Homo sapiens: one gene and its partner. The protein of the gene in region 1 interacts with the protein of each later gene in a pairwise test. Each region holds a gene or a part of one and is shown in the gene's direction. Other genes may lie near its edges.

The links. Proteins that work in one complex are often made in the same cells at the same time.
Region 2: the proteins of DNAAF11 (region 1) and PODN interact in binary tests that used the Homo sapiens proteins (3 or more experiments, as listed by UniProt).

Annotation. Positions count from the first base shown.
Region 1 is NC_000008.11:132,665,531-132,672,570, reverse strand, and holds part of DNAAF11 (dynein axonemal assembly factor 11), read left to right. Parts: intron 1-7,040. UniProt on the Homo sapiens protein: Involved in dynein arm assembly, is important for expression and transporting outer dynein arm (ODA) proteins from the cytoplasm to the cilia. Acts as a crucial component in the formation and motility of spermatozoal flagella.
Region 2 is NC_000001.11:53,079,198-53,086,019, forward strand, and holds the end of PODN (podocan precursor), read left to right. Parts: intron 1-1,495; exon of another isoform or gene 1,496-1,530; coding exon 1,531-1,679; intron 1,680-2,783; coding exon 2,784-2,964; 3' UTR 2,965-2,991; intron 2,992-5,315; 3' UTR 5,316-6,297; downstream 6,298-6,822.

The DNA of each region.
Region 1 (7,040 bases):
GTTAAGCAGCGTGCCCAGTGCCACACAGTAAGTGGTATATCTGGGATGGTAAGCAGAGCCCGCACTCTTGTGTATGTTTGCTATATTGTCTCTTAGGAGTAAGAGACAGTTTGGTGAGAAAAGGAGAGGTCATGGTGCAAATTCTCATGTAAAGTTGAAGAGACCACTATTTTTGATGTTTGTGTCTGCTCAGGAGGACCAATATTGAGCCTGGGGATGGTGGCAAGAGGAAAATGAATTAGTTCCTCTCTGTGCATTTAATCTGGTGTGTGTTGTGATTTAGAGAAGATCTAGTGTCTTTATTCTTAAATTTTATACTATTGAATGCATTTTGTATTACTGGGACACATTTGTCATCTATAGATCTTCTTTGGTGAAATGTCTTCAAATATTTTGCCCATTTTATACATTGATTTGTTTTCTTATCCTTGAGTTTTAAGAGTCTTCTATATATTCTGGATATAGGTCATCAGATACATGATTTGCAAGTATTTTCTCCCCACCTATGGCTTATATTTTCCTTCTCTTAATTATTTTGAAAGAGAAGATTTAAATTTTGAAGTTTAATTTATTATTTTATAGATCTTGCTTTTGATGTCATATCCAAGAAATCTTTGCTAAGTTTACATAGATTTTTCTCTTTTTTTTCCTAGAAATTTTATAATTTTTGGTTTTATGCTATTCCATCATTCATTTGACTCAATTTTTGTATATGATGTGAGATGTAGATTACATTGTTGTTGTGTGTGTTTTTTTTTTTAATATGGAAATCCAGTAGTACCAGCCCCACTTGTTGAGGACTATGCTCTCTCCATTGAATTGAACCTTTGGATAAACCAGTGGCTTGTATATGTGTGTTCTCGACTTTCTTTTCTGATTCATTGATTTATTTGTCTTCCTCTGTGCCAATTTCACACTGTCTTGATTACTGGAGCTTTGTAATAAGTAGTCTTGAAATCCAGTAGTGTTTTTCCTCTAAATTTTTTAATCTTTTAAAGTTGTATTCAGATCCTTTACATTTCTATATGAATTTCAGTAGTATCTTGTCAATTTGTACAAAAATAAGTCTGCTGGGATTTTGACCTGAATTGTGTTAAATCTGTAGCTCGATTTGGGGAGAATGAGTATCTTAACAATATTGAATCTTCTGACCCAAAAACAAGGGATATATCTCCATTTATTTAGATATTACAAAATGTCTACAATATTTTTGAAGTTTTCAATGGACAGACTTTGCACATATTTTTCTGATTTATCTCTAAGTACTTCATATTTTTGATGCCATTGTAAGTGTTGAGTATATAGAAGTATACTTGATTTTTTCATATAGATCTTATATTCTGCAATCTTTTCAAACTTTCTTATTCAATTAGCTTTTTATATGAATTCCATTTGATATTCTCTGTAGACAGTCATATCATCTGCAAATAGAAATAATTCTACTTCTCTACCACCTGGATGCCTTGTTTTTCCTTGCCTATTGCTAGAACCTTCAGTATAATGTTGAAGTGGTGAGAACAGATTTCCTGGCCTTTTTTTCTGATTCTTACGGGAAGAGTCTTTCTCTGCTCGATATAATGTTGATTATAGGTGTTTTGTGGATGCTCCTTGTCAAGTTGAGTTCCTTTTTATTTCTGGTTTTCCGAGTTGTTGTCTTTTTAAAATTGGGAATGGATGGTGGATTTTGTCAACTGCTGTTTTGTCTCTACTGACATTATCACTTTGTTAGTTTATTAATATTGTATGTTACTTGGATTTCTGAGCATTATATCAACCTCGTATACATTGGATAACTCCCCCCTTGGTTATAATGTATAATTTTTTTATTATGTTGTTGGATTTGATTTGCAAAATTTTTTTGCTTAGGATTTTTACATATGTGTTCATGAGGTACATGGATCTGTAGTTTTCTTTTCTTGTAATGCATTTGATTGGTTGTAATTCTGACCTTATAGAATATAATGGGAAGTATTATTTCCTCTTCAATTTTCTACAAGAGTTTGTGTATATGGGGTATTATTTTCCCTTAAGTTTTTGGTAGAATTAATCAAAGGAGACATCTGTGCCATAGTTTTATTTGTGGAAAGAAAGGTTTTTAACTACATATCCAGTAGATATAGGGCTGTTCAGCTCATCTATATATTCTTGAGTGAGCTTTTGTAATTTGTGTCTTTTAAGGGATTCACCCGTTTAATTGATGTTCTTGAATTTATTGGCATAAAGTTACCTATAATATCTGTAGAATACATATGATGTTACCTCTCTCACTCCTAATATTGGCAGTTTGTGTCTTCTCTCTTTTTTGCTGATAAGTCTGACTGAAAGTTTACCAATTTTATTTTCTTAAAGAGCCAGCTTTAATTTTTATTAATTTTTCTCTATTTTTTTCTGCTTTTCATTTCATTGATTTCTGTTATAATCTTCATTATTTACTTTCTTCTGCTTATTTTGGGTTTAATTTGTTCTTTTTCTAGATCCTTAAAGTGGAAGCCAATATTTGAGACCTTTCTTTATTCCTACTATAAGTATTTAATGCTATAAATTTACCTCTAAGTAATGTTTTAGCTGTATCCTGCAAATTTTGATATGTTGCTTTTCTGTGTAATTTTTTTTTTTTTTTTTTTTTTTTTGAGACGGAGTCTTGCTCTGTCACCCAGGCTGGAGTGCAGTGGCACGATCTCAGCTTACTGCAAGCTCTGCCTCCTGGGTTCACGCCATTCTCCTGCCTCAGCCTCCTTGTAATTTTTAACTCTGTTCAAAATACTTTCTAATTTTCCTTTTTATTTCCTTATGCCCAAATTTAAAAAATTACTTTTGTATGTTTTGTATAGATTTTTAGGCTAGAGGGTAAACCCTGTTTTATTACTCTATTATGTCCAGAACCTGACGTCACTGCTAATCTTATGATGAAGTACTGGTCCTAGCCCTCAGCTTTCTCTGTCCTCTGGTTTCAGGAAATGAAAACCTCTTCATAGTGCTCCCAGTCCAGTCCTCTGGTTTCACACTTCCTCTCTCAGCCTTTCCTGATCAGTTGTGTTTAGCAGCAGCCTTTATACAATACAATATAATTGTCCTTTAAGTTACAGTTTCTCTCACATTTCTCTAACACCTGACATGTTACACTTACTAGTACATTCCCTTCCACTTGTATCCTATCTCTGTTCAACACCAGTGCAAGTCTTTACAATTGCATAACTGCCTTGGGCCAGGCACTATCTATGTTCTGCCTACCAGGAATAACAGTGTCCTTGCCACTGTGACAACATGTAGTCTGACTCCAAAATCCTATCTTAGCTAGCATCTGCTTTCATGCACCACTTCTGGTATCAACTCTTCCAGTTTAGGCTCCTCAGGAAGCCGATATCTAGGTGGGAATTAGCATGCAGGAGGTTTATTAGGGAGCATTGTTGGGGTGGGTAGGAAAGAAATCAAAATTGAGCAGAGGGGGAAGTTGGGCTGTGATATGTCTAACAAAGGCCTTAGGAAACCAACCAGGAGATCTAAACTTGGAATGAACCTTCTGACTTGCCCAAGTTGGGGTGAAGAACTGGGCCTTTATAGCCCCTACATCAACCAGTCATTGAATGTGGACTTTCCCAGGAAAGGAAAGGCCATGACCTTGGCTGAACAATCTCTTCGCTGAGACAGCTCATGAAGAAGGTGGGCAGCAGAGGGCTGTCTGTCAACAGAGCCCCCAGCAGCTAGAGGAATTAATCCTTCAGTTTTGAAGAGGGACCTGAGAAGTGCATCATGTCATCCACGATGGCCTAAGGTGCCCTTTCCTGGTTTATCTAACAAACATCTACTCACATTTCAAGATTCAGCTCAGGGCCGGGCGCGGTGGCTCAAGCCTGTAATTCCAGCCCTTTGGGAGGCTGAGGGGGGTGGAACATGAGGTCAAGAGATCGAGACCATCCTGGCTAACACGGTGAAACCCCGTCTCTATTAAAAATACAAAAAAAAAATTAGCCAGGCGTGGTGGCAGGTGCCTGTAGTCCCAGCTACTGGGGAGTCTGAGGCAGGAGAATGGCGTGAACCCGGGAGGCAGAGCTTGCAGTGAGCCAAGATCGCGCCACTGGGCGACAGAGCGAGACTCTGTCTCAAAGAAAAAAAAAAAGATTCAGCTCAGACTCCTCCTCCATGAAGCTTCTTCTGACTTCCTTTTTCTCAGTAGCACCGATCACTGTCTCCTGTGCACTCATCATACTTTCTATGTTCTTCTCTCAGTGCCCCATAGCACTTAGTGCTTTTCAGTAGCACACTCCAGTAAGTCGTCCCTAAAGATATCACTAGATTGGGATATAGTACGGCTGTTGCCGCTCATTATGATGAGCCTGGGTCAGCAAGAAAAGACAGGCAAGTGTACAATCCTGCTTTTAAGAGTTTCCATTGAAAATGATTAAAAAATATTTTAGATGCTGCAAGAGGTGACCTTCACCTGTTTGTAACCCCTTTATTTCTATTAACTCTCAATTTCATATACATATCTGATAGGTCTTTCAAGATGTCTGAATGCTACAAAATCTTCAATAAATACATATTAGTTGATTTTATTCTAATCTAGTAGGAAAAAAAGAGTTGTTTACAAAACATGATGTAAAGCCTGAAGGAATGAACACTAAATTATTGGCTTTGGGAGTTTTGAGAACTTTGCTCAATGTAATGAAAAACTTTAGAAACAAACACAGCAGGACAGCCTCCAGTATCCCAGAAACCTCCTCACCGTGCCCTCTGTCCCTGCTCCCTGCAAAGTCATTTTGCTGATACAGCCTCAAATTTTGGAGAACTCATTCATATTAAGGAATTGGAAAGAAACTTAGGTGAGCTGATGTGTTTTGATTAAACCCTTGGATTCCTCCACAGCATCTTTTAGTGAGGGGAGTATGTATCTGTGGTTGAAGCTGTCAATATCCTTCATCAAGAGCTTATTTCTCCAGTCAGACAGATATTGGTTAGCACTCAACCATCTGCATCTTATATTTTGCTGTTTGAAATTTCCTAAAATAAGGAAGTGAAAGCAATATGTTTTATATTGTGCCTTGGCATATTTTTCTTCTATACCACATAATAGGTACTATAATACCATTTTTCTTGAAATAGTCTTATGATAACATATTAATGCTTCCAAAGCATTTTATTATTTATTTCTTTACTTATTTATAGAAGGAAGGGAACTGACATTTATTGACCAATGACTGTATACCAGGCACTGTGCTAAGGGCTTTACTTAATTATTTAATCCTCAAAAAAATTTTAAGAAGTAATGCTAACATTATCTCCAGTTTACAGATGAGAAAACTGAAATAGATGAACAGTTTTGCCCAAATCTACGTATCATAAACAGGTAGAGAATGGTGGGGCAAAGATTTGACATTATCTTTTCATGACAACACTACACATCCCATCCCTTAGGTTATGTTCCAGTTCTAAATAATAGTAGAAGTTCATTCTAAGTTCTTAGCTCTCCAGGGCTCTTTACAATGGACTCAAACTTGCCTAGCTTTTTTATATCTCCCAATTCCTTCAGTGCTGTGCTGTAGCCATAATGAATGCCGCATAATTTACAGAATCTTCTATGGCCTCTCTCCTTCTGAGCTTGCTTCTTGGAATTGTCTTTTATCTGCCCCATTCTCTTGAATAATCTTAATCATCCTCTGTGTCTCAGCTGAAGATAGGAAGCTTGCCATCTTCTCCGAAGTCTTGATTAGAAGCTGTGGGTATCCCTGACCACCCACATGACCCGAGTGGTATGCACACTGTGCTTCTTTCCTGCCTCTTCTACCAGGCAACCTCCATGAAAGCAAGGACTGTCTGCCGTTGTGTCTACAACATCATTACTATATTGTTGCTGCAAAGTGAAAGAAGATACACTTGCTTCCTGGCCTTTGCACTGTGCTGTTTCTTCTGCTCCATTCTCTTCTTTTTTTCTGGTTAATTGTCATGTGTGCTCTGTATCTCTGTCGACATTGCCTGCTTCTGAAGCCGCAGCTGGGTTGGGTGCTTCTCCTAGATGCTTCATGGTATCCAGCTCTTCTCTCAAGCTCATCCTGCACTGTTGTCACTGCCTCTCCTTAATTCTGGACAGAAAATTCCTTGAGGGCAGAGTTTGTATCTTTTTTTTTACTTTTTAATTTAATTTTGTTTTTATTTGACATAATTGTACATATTTATGGGATACATAGTGATGTTTCAATACATATACTGTATAGTAATCAGATCAGGGTAATTAGCATATCCATTATCTAAAACATTTATCATTTCTTTGTGTTGGAAACTTTCAATATCGTCCTTCTAGCTATTTCAAACTATATATTATTGTTTTTAATTTTATATTCAGAGGGTACATGTGCAGGTTTGTTACATGGGTATATTGGATGATGGCTGGGGTCTGAGCTTCAAGTGAACCCCTAACCCAAACAGTGAACATAGTAGCCAGTAGGTCGTTTTTCAACCCTTGCCTCCCCTCCTTCGCCCATTTTGGAGTCCTCAGGGTCTATTGTTTCCATCTTTATGTCCTTGTGTACCCACAGTTTAGCTCCCACTTATAAGTGAGAACATGCAGTATTTGATTTTCTGTTCGTGCATGAATTCACTTGGGATAATGGCCTCCAGCTGCATCCATGTTACTGCAAAGGACATGATTTTTTCTTTTTATGGCTGCATAGTATTCCATGGTATATGTGTACCAAATTTTCTCTATCCAATCCGCTGTTGATGGGGACTTGGGTTGAATACATTACTTTGATATTGTGAATAGTGCTGCAGTAGCACACGAGTACAGGTGTCTTTTTGATTGAATGATTTATTTTCCTTTGGGTAGATACCCAGTAGTGAGATTGCTAGGTTGATTGTTCATTCTATTTTTAATTCTTTGAGAAATCTCTATTCTGTTTTCCATAGGGGTTGAACTAATTTGCATTCCCACCAACAGAGTATAAGTGTTCCCTTTTCTCTGCATCCTTGCCAACGTCTATTATTTTATGACTTTCATAATAATAGCCATTCTGACTGGTATGAGATGGTATCTCATTGTAGTTTTA
Region 2 (6,822 bases), on another chromosome or scaffold:
CGAAGCTAGGCCTTAGGGGAGGCAGGAGGTGGGTCAGGCAGAGGGTGTGGCTGGCATGCCAGGGTGAGCCCAGCCCACCTGCAGGTACAAGAGTGAGGGGCAGAGTACAGGTGGTATGACCGAGCTGAGCTCATCACCTGCAGATACAGGTTTGAGAAGGGCTGTGGAGGTAAGGAAGGTCATGGCTGCAGGTAGGGGCCCTAGGCTCAGGAGGACCGGGGGCCAGTTCGGGTGGTATGTATGGGAGAGTCAAGCTCACCCCTTTGCAGGCACAGGAGTAGGTATGTGGAGAAGGCTGGGCTTTGGGATGGGAGGCAGAGGGGACAGCCTGAGCTGTGGGCCCACCTCACCAGTCTGCAGAGGGCTGGAGGTGGGGATCTACTCATGCTTTCTGAGGCTGGCCAGTCGATGTGGCTGCTGTGACCACATGGTCAGAATTAGGCAGGGATGCCTGGGCACATAGTTCACTTTGGTAACAAAACCCCCAACTCAACCAGTGTGGGTGAAAGAGAAATCCACTCTATACGCTGGCTCATGCCTGAATCTCAGCAGTTAGAGAGGCTGAGGCAGGAGGATCACTTGAGCCCAGGAGTTTGAGGCTTGCCCGGGCAACATAATGAGACCTCATCTCTACAAAAAAATAAACTTAAAAAAATTTAGCCCCGTGCAGTGGCATGCATCTCACCCTGGGGGGCTGAGGTGGGAGGATCACTTGAGCCTAAGGAAGATAGAGCTGGCAGTGAGCTATGATCACGCTACAGCACTCAATCCTGGACGACAGAGTGAGACGCTGTCTCAAATTAAAAAAAAAAAAAAAAAAAAGGAAACTCATCAGAGAACCTGGGAGGGAGGGTGGGGTGCTGCCAGTTTAGGCACTGCCCAGTGGCTTCAGCGGCTCCCTGTGGGAACCCACTTTCCTGACTGCCCTCCCCTGGATGCCAGGCATGTGATGATCTGAGACAGAATGGCCTGGGGCCTGGCTGTTGTGCTGGGGTCACTGTGGGTCTCACACCGTTGCTCCTGACCTCTGCACGTGTGGCCCCTGAGGTCCATAAGTGAGCAGTCCCACTCAAGCAGCTCCCACTGCACCCATCCAGGGCCAGTGGGGTGAGATTCAGAGTCTGGGGGATCCCTGGGCTCTGCCCATTTGAGATCTTTGGGAATGACCAAGTCTAATGGGAATGACAAGTGTGTCAGGAGATAGGACTGTGACACCCAAACATCTTGGCTGTGGGTTTATGTGGGAAGGCACAAGAAGCTGGGTAGGACGTTCATCAATTAGAATAAGGGTTTGGAGTCAGGCACACCCGGCTACAGCCTTTTATAGGTTATGTGACCTTGGAAAGATCACTTAACCTCTCTGAGCCTCTATTTCCCAATCTGGGAAGTGGGGATAATTATAGACACCCCCCCTCCTCCACACAGGGTTATTGTTAGATTTAGATAGGCTGGGGGCTTGGTGGGAGTTTTGTAAGCTGTTAAGTGCTTTGCACAGGTGGGAGTCCCTGACTCCCTTGGTCACCCCTGCAGCTGCTGGACATCGCCGGGAATCAGCTCACAGAGATCCCCGAGGGGCTCCCCGAGTCACTTGAGTACCTGTACCTGCAGAACAACAAGATTAGTGCGGTGCCCGCCAATGCCTTCGACTCCACGCCCAACCTCAAGGGGATCTTTCTCAGGTAGGAGCCCACTCGCGGCCCTGTACACACCCCCGTGGGGCCCACCCTGGCTCCAACGGGACAGTTGATGCACGTGGGAACAGCTTGGCTCCACTGCTGCCTGTGTAACCACGGCTCAGATCTCAAGGGTGGGGACAGTCCTGGCCAGGCCCGATATGGTTCCTAGGTTTGTAAAAGGGCTTTGGAAACGTTAGAAGCCAGTGCGCATGGGCGTTGTGAATGTTACTGTGGCAGAAAGGATGCTGGACAGCATCTTCCTGGTTTGCAGCTGAGAGAGCTGAGGCCCTGAGAGCACAGGTGACTGCTGTGTCTGCAGCCATCCAGGCTGGGTCCGGGCCTCACACTCAGGAATAGATGTTCAGGCCCTCCCTGGCTTCTGGGGCTAAGAGATGGGGATTTGGAGTGATTCGGGGGATGCAGCTCCCTGAGGATATGAGGGGCTTCCATGCAGCAGAGCCAGGGTGGTTCTTCCCAGCACTTCCCACAATCCCTGCCCCCAAATCAGAGAGAAGGAGACAAGGCAGAGATGAGTGTGCTCCCAGGAGCTCGGTTGCCCAGAAAGCCCTGGGCTCGATGATATCAGGGTGGCTTGACATGTGCCTCAGGCATCTGCAGGGTAGCTGAAGCACAGAGAGTGAGGGGCCTGAGATCAGAGCCACAGCCTCCACCTTTCCACCCCTGAGTGTGGCCCTGGCCTGGCTCAGCGCTGGCCTTGCCTTTGTGCCACTCCACATCAGGCACTGCGGTGACCCCTGGCTACCGCAGCCCAGGAGCCTCAGGCCTTGGGGTTAATGCCAGGGATGGCATAGAGACAGCTCCCAAAGTTGTGGCTTCCAAAATAGCAGTGAGAGTGTGCGCAGAGAGAGACCCCTCACTTTGCAGAGACTGGCCCAGAGCCAGCCCCACCACAAGCTGCAGCTGCCCTGACCGGCCTGTACCTTCCATCATGTACTGCGCTCTCAGCCCCTGGCCTTTCCCGCCTGCTGCACCACTTTCCGGGAGGGCCATTCCCTCCCCTGTTACCTTCTGGAGAGGCCAGTCGGGGGAAGGGAGGGTTCCTTGGGGGTTGGGCTCCTGGCATTGACTGCCTCGATGCTCACACAGGTTTAACAAGCTGGCTGTGGGCTCCGTGGTGGACAGTGCCTTCCGGAGGCTGAAGCACCTGCAGGTCTTGGACATTGAAGGCAACTTAGAGTTTGGTGACATTTCCAAGGACCGTGGCCGCTTGGGGAAGGAAAAGGAGGAGGAGGAAGAGGAGGAGGAGGAGGAAGAGGAAACAAGATAGTGACAAGGTGATGCAGATGTGACCTAGGTATGTGGCCTGTATGGGGCAGCACTCACTTCTGCTCCCTGCATTTTCCCCTTCCTGACCCTGGTAGAGGGTCTTTCTGTCCATTCTTCACCCTCTCGCCTCTGCTTCATCCACCCATTTAGCAAATTTATAAGAGCACTTGGGATGTACCAGGCCGTGGGTGAAAGGTTGAAGCCTACGGGAGGCCCACACCTTCCAGAAGATTCTCACCCAGCATGAGGGTGCTGTCACGGGAGTGACCGGGGGGCACTGGACATGTGGGTCGGGGCTCAGGAGTGAGGTCTGGTCTGGAGAGAGGGATCCAGGCATTGTTAGCCTTGAAACAATCACTCAAGCTGCAGGGGGCTGGGGAAGCTTGCCATGGGAGAGTGAGTGAGGGGGGCAGGTGACTGAGACAGAGCAGTTAGGAAAGGAGGTAGGAAAACCCCAGACTGCCGTGGGCAGAGGGCATTTGCACATGTATGTAACACAGGCACCTACATGTGCACATGCACACAAATGCACACGGATGCACCAACACACATACATTCATGTGCACACACGTCTCAACATGTACACACATCCACAAACCATGCACAGGCAGAACACACACACCACACACATGCACACAGACACACATACATGCTTGTACCCCATGACACATTTGCATGCCTAGACTATGTACATACGTGCACACACGTGTGTACATGCATGTGAGTACATGCACACAAAACACCCATGCGTACCCACGTATACGGGCCCTTACATGCACACCTGCATGCACACATGTACACATGATGCGTGCATGCACAGGCCTGTCTAGAAGTGGGGACTTGGCTGTGTCAGTGCTGCTGAGGGGCTGAGGGAACTGAGCACTGAGGGAGCTGACCACTGCGGAGCGCCCACTGGATTTTTCCACCTGGAGGCTGTCTGTGACTTTGTAGCAGCAGGGGAAGCTGGGATGAGAAGAGCAGCTGGAAAGGAAGTGGGTCCAGGCACTGCAGACCAGCCTTTTGAGAAGTTTGGCTGTGAGAGATGAGAGAGGGCAGAGGTGGGAATGGAGTGTGAAGTTCAGGAAACGCTCATTTTCTGAGCCTCACAGGAAGCAAAGGCCTCTCGAGGGGAGCCCTGTGTGAGGGGCTCTGGCAAGATGCCCCGACACACACATGCATCTTCCACACGCACCCTCTTAAAGGAGGGGGCTGGCTTGGGTGCTGGTGGGAAGAGGCTGGCCTGGAGGGGGAGTCACCGATGTAGGAAAGAGCTGGCTTTGAGGGCCCCTGTGGGAATGGTAGAAGTTGCTGGCTTTAGCAGGAGGAACAAAGGGCAGGGTGGCTGCTGTCACAGGCAGATTGGTGGCTTGGTGGCCAGATGTGAAGCCATGTCAGCCGGATCCCTCCAGTCTTCCGTTTTCTCTGTGCAGCAGGGAGGTTCTCCGCAGACCAAAGGTATGGAGAAAATGGACAGGTGGATCCACCCACAGCTGAGTTTTTCAGCCAAGAGTTCAGGACAGGAGGGCAAGGAACAAGGGAGTGTGTTGGCCGGAGGCTGGCTGCAGGCATGGGTCCTGGGGTCAGGTTGGGTAGGGAAGGAGGTGCAGATAGGAGGGCTGGTGGGCAGGGACTCAGAGAAAGACATTGGAGAGGAGCCAGGAGCGGCTGTGTGGTCGGAGGAGAGAGGAGAGCTGGTGAGGAGTGAGCCAGGCTGGGGGTCACAGGGCCAGGACGTAGCCGTGGGAGGGGCTGCCGGGCCACTGTTGAGTGTTGACTGAAGTAGGGCCTGGGACGAAGAGGAACCAGAGGGGGCTGTTGAGGGCCACTTGGGTGGGTGACAGAGGGAGCTGGGAGAAGGGCGCAAGTTGATGGTGAGAGAAGAGTGTGCACAGAGTTGGGTATCCGCAAGTGTGGAGGGGCTGGCAAGAGGCTGAGCTTGGGGGTCACCTTCCCCAGCTCCCAGGGCCCGGGAGTATGAAGGTAGAGCTGGTTCTCTGAGGTGTTGTCCTCACACAGAGTTGGGGTGGGTGACAGGGTGACTGGCCATCCAGTGGGGACACCACAGCCCTCATGAGGGGCTGTGGAGTCCTGGGGTGGGTGAGAATCTGCCCCATCTCAGGTCAGTTGAGTGGGGCTCTGGGAGAAGCCCTGGGGAGTGGCTGGTGGGACCCAAAGGCCTTCTGGCACCCCGCTGGCTCTGGGCTCCCAGGGCCAACGCTCCCTCCCTACTCATAGTAGCCTGGCCTTTCCAGAGCCCCCTCCAGCAGGGCTCCCCACAGCAGGTCCCCTCAGGCTGCTTGGGCTGGTGGGTCTGCCCTGAGCTGGCCCCTGACTCTCTTACATGTTCCACAGGACGATGGACCGCCGGACTCTTTTCTGCAGCACACGCCTGTGTGCTGTGAGCCCCCCACTCTGCCGTGCTCACACAGACACACCCAGCTGCACACATGAGGCATCCCACATGACACGGGCTGACACAGTCTCATATCCCCACCCCTTCCCACGGCGTGTCCCACGGCCAGACACATGCACACACATCACACCCTCAAACACCCAGCTCAGCCACACACAACTACCCTCCAAACCACCACAGTCTCTGTCACACCCCCACTACCGCTGCCACGCCCTCTGAATCATGCAGGGAAGGGTCTGCCCCTGCCCTGGCACACACAGGCACCCATTCCCTCCCCCTGCTGACATGTGTATGCGTATGCATACACACCACACACACACACATGCACAAGTCATGTGCGAACAGCCCTCCAAAGCCTATGCCACAGACAGCTCTTGCCCCAGCCAGAATCAGCCATAGCAGCTCGCCGTCTGCCCTGTCCATCTGTCCGTCCGTTCCCTGGAGAAGACACAAGGGTATCCATGCTCTGTGGCCAGGTGCCTGCCACCCTCTGGAACTCACAAAAGCTGGCTTTTATTCCTTTCCCATCCTATGGGGACAGGAGCCTTCAGGACTGCTGGCCTGGCCTGGCCCACCCTGCTCCTCCAGGTGCTGGGCAGTCACTCTGCTAAGAGTCCCTCCCTGCCACGCCCTGGCAGGACACAGGCACTTTTCCAATGGGCAAGCCCAGTGGAGGCAGGATGGGAGAGCCCCCTGGGTGCTGCTGGGGCCTTGGGGCAGGAGTGAAGCAGAGGTGATGGGGCTGGGCTGAGCCAGGGAGGAAGGACCCAGCTGCACCTAGGAGACACCTTTGTTCTTCAGGCCTGTGGGGGAAGTTCCGGGTGCCTTTATTTTTTATTCTTTTCTAAGGAAAAAAATGATAAAAATCTCAAAGCTGATTTTTCTTGTTATAGAAAAACTAATATAAAAGCATTATCCCTATCCCTGCAGCCTGTGGCTATGTCTGTGCTTGCTTCCTGCCAGGTGCTGGCCTGGTGCCGGGTGGAGGGGGCAGGATACAAGCCCCTCAGCGCCCTGGCCAGAACAGCAGACATCAGTGGAAAGTCCAGTTCTCGGGGCCCGCAGAGTAGCTGCACAGGCAGGCATCCTGGGAGAACAGGGCATAGCCTCAGGCGAGGGGGCCTGAGGTGTGTGCAGATGGCCCACTCGGGAATAGTAGGTGAGGCCTGAACCAGCACACGCGGCCTGTGAGCTTGCTGTGCATTCCCAGAGGTGGAGCATCCAAGCAAAGGACCTCATGGGCTTTGGGCCTGTTAAGGGCTCACCTGGAGGGTCATGGGTCACCTTTGCACTGACAGGGTGTTACTAGTGGGTTCTAGAGGAGAGCAGGGGACTGGAGGCAGGCCTGGGAGCTGGAGCAGAGCCGACTTGGGGGCCCAGGTCTCCGCAGACCTTTCCAGGAAAGAGCTAACAGATGCACCCAGTGTGCTTCCCACCCCAGTGGGA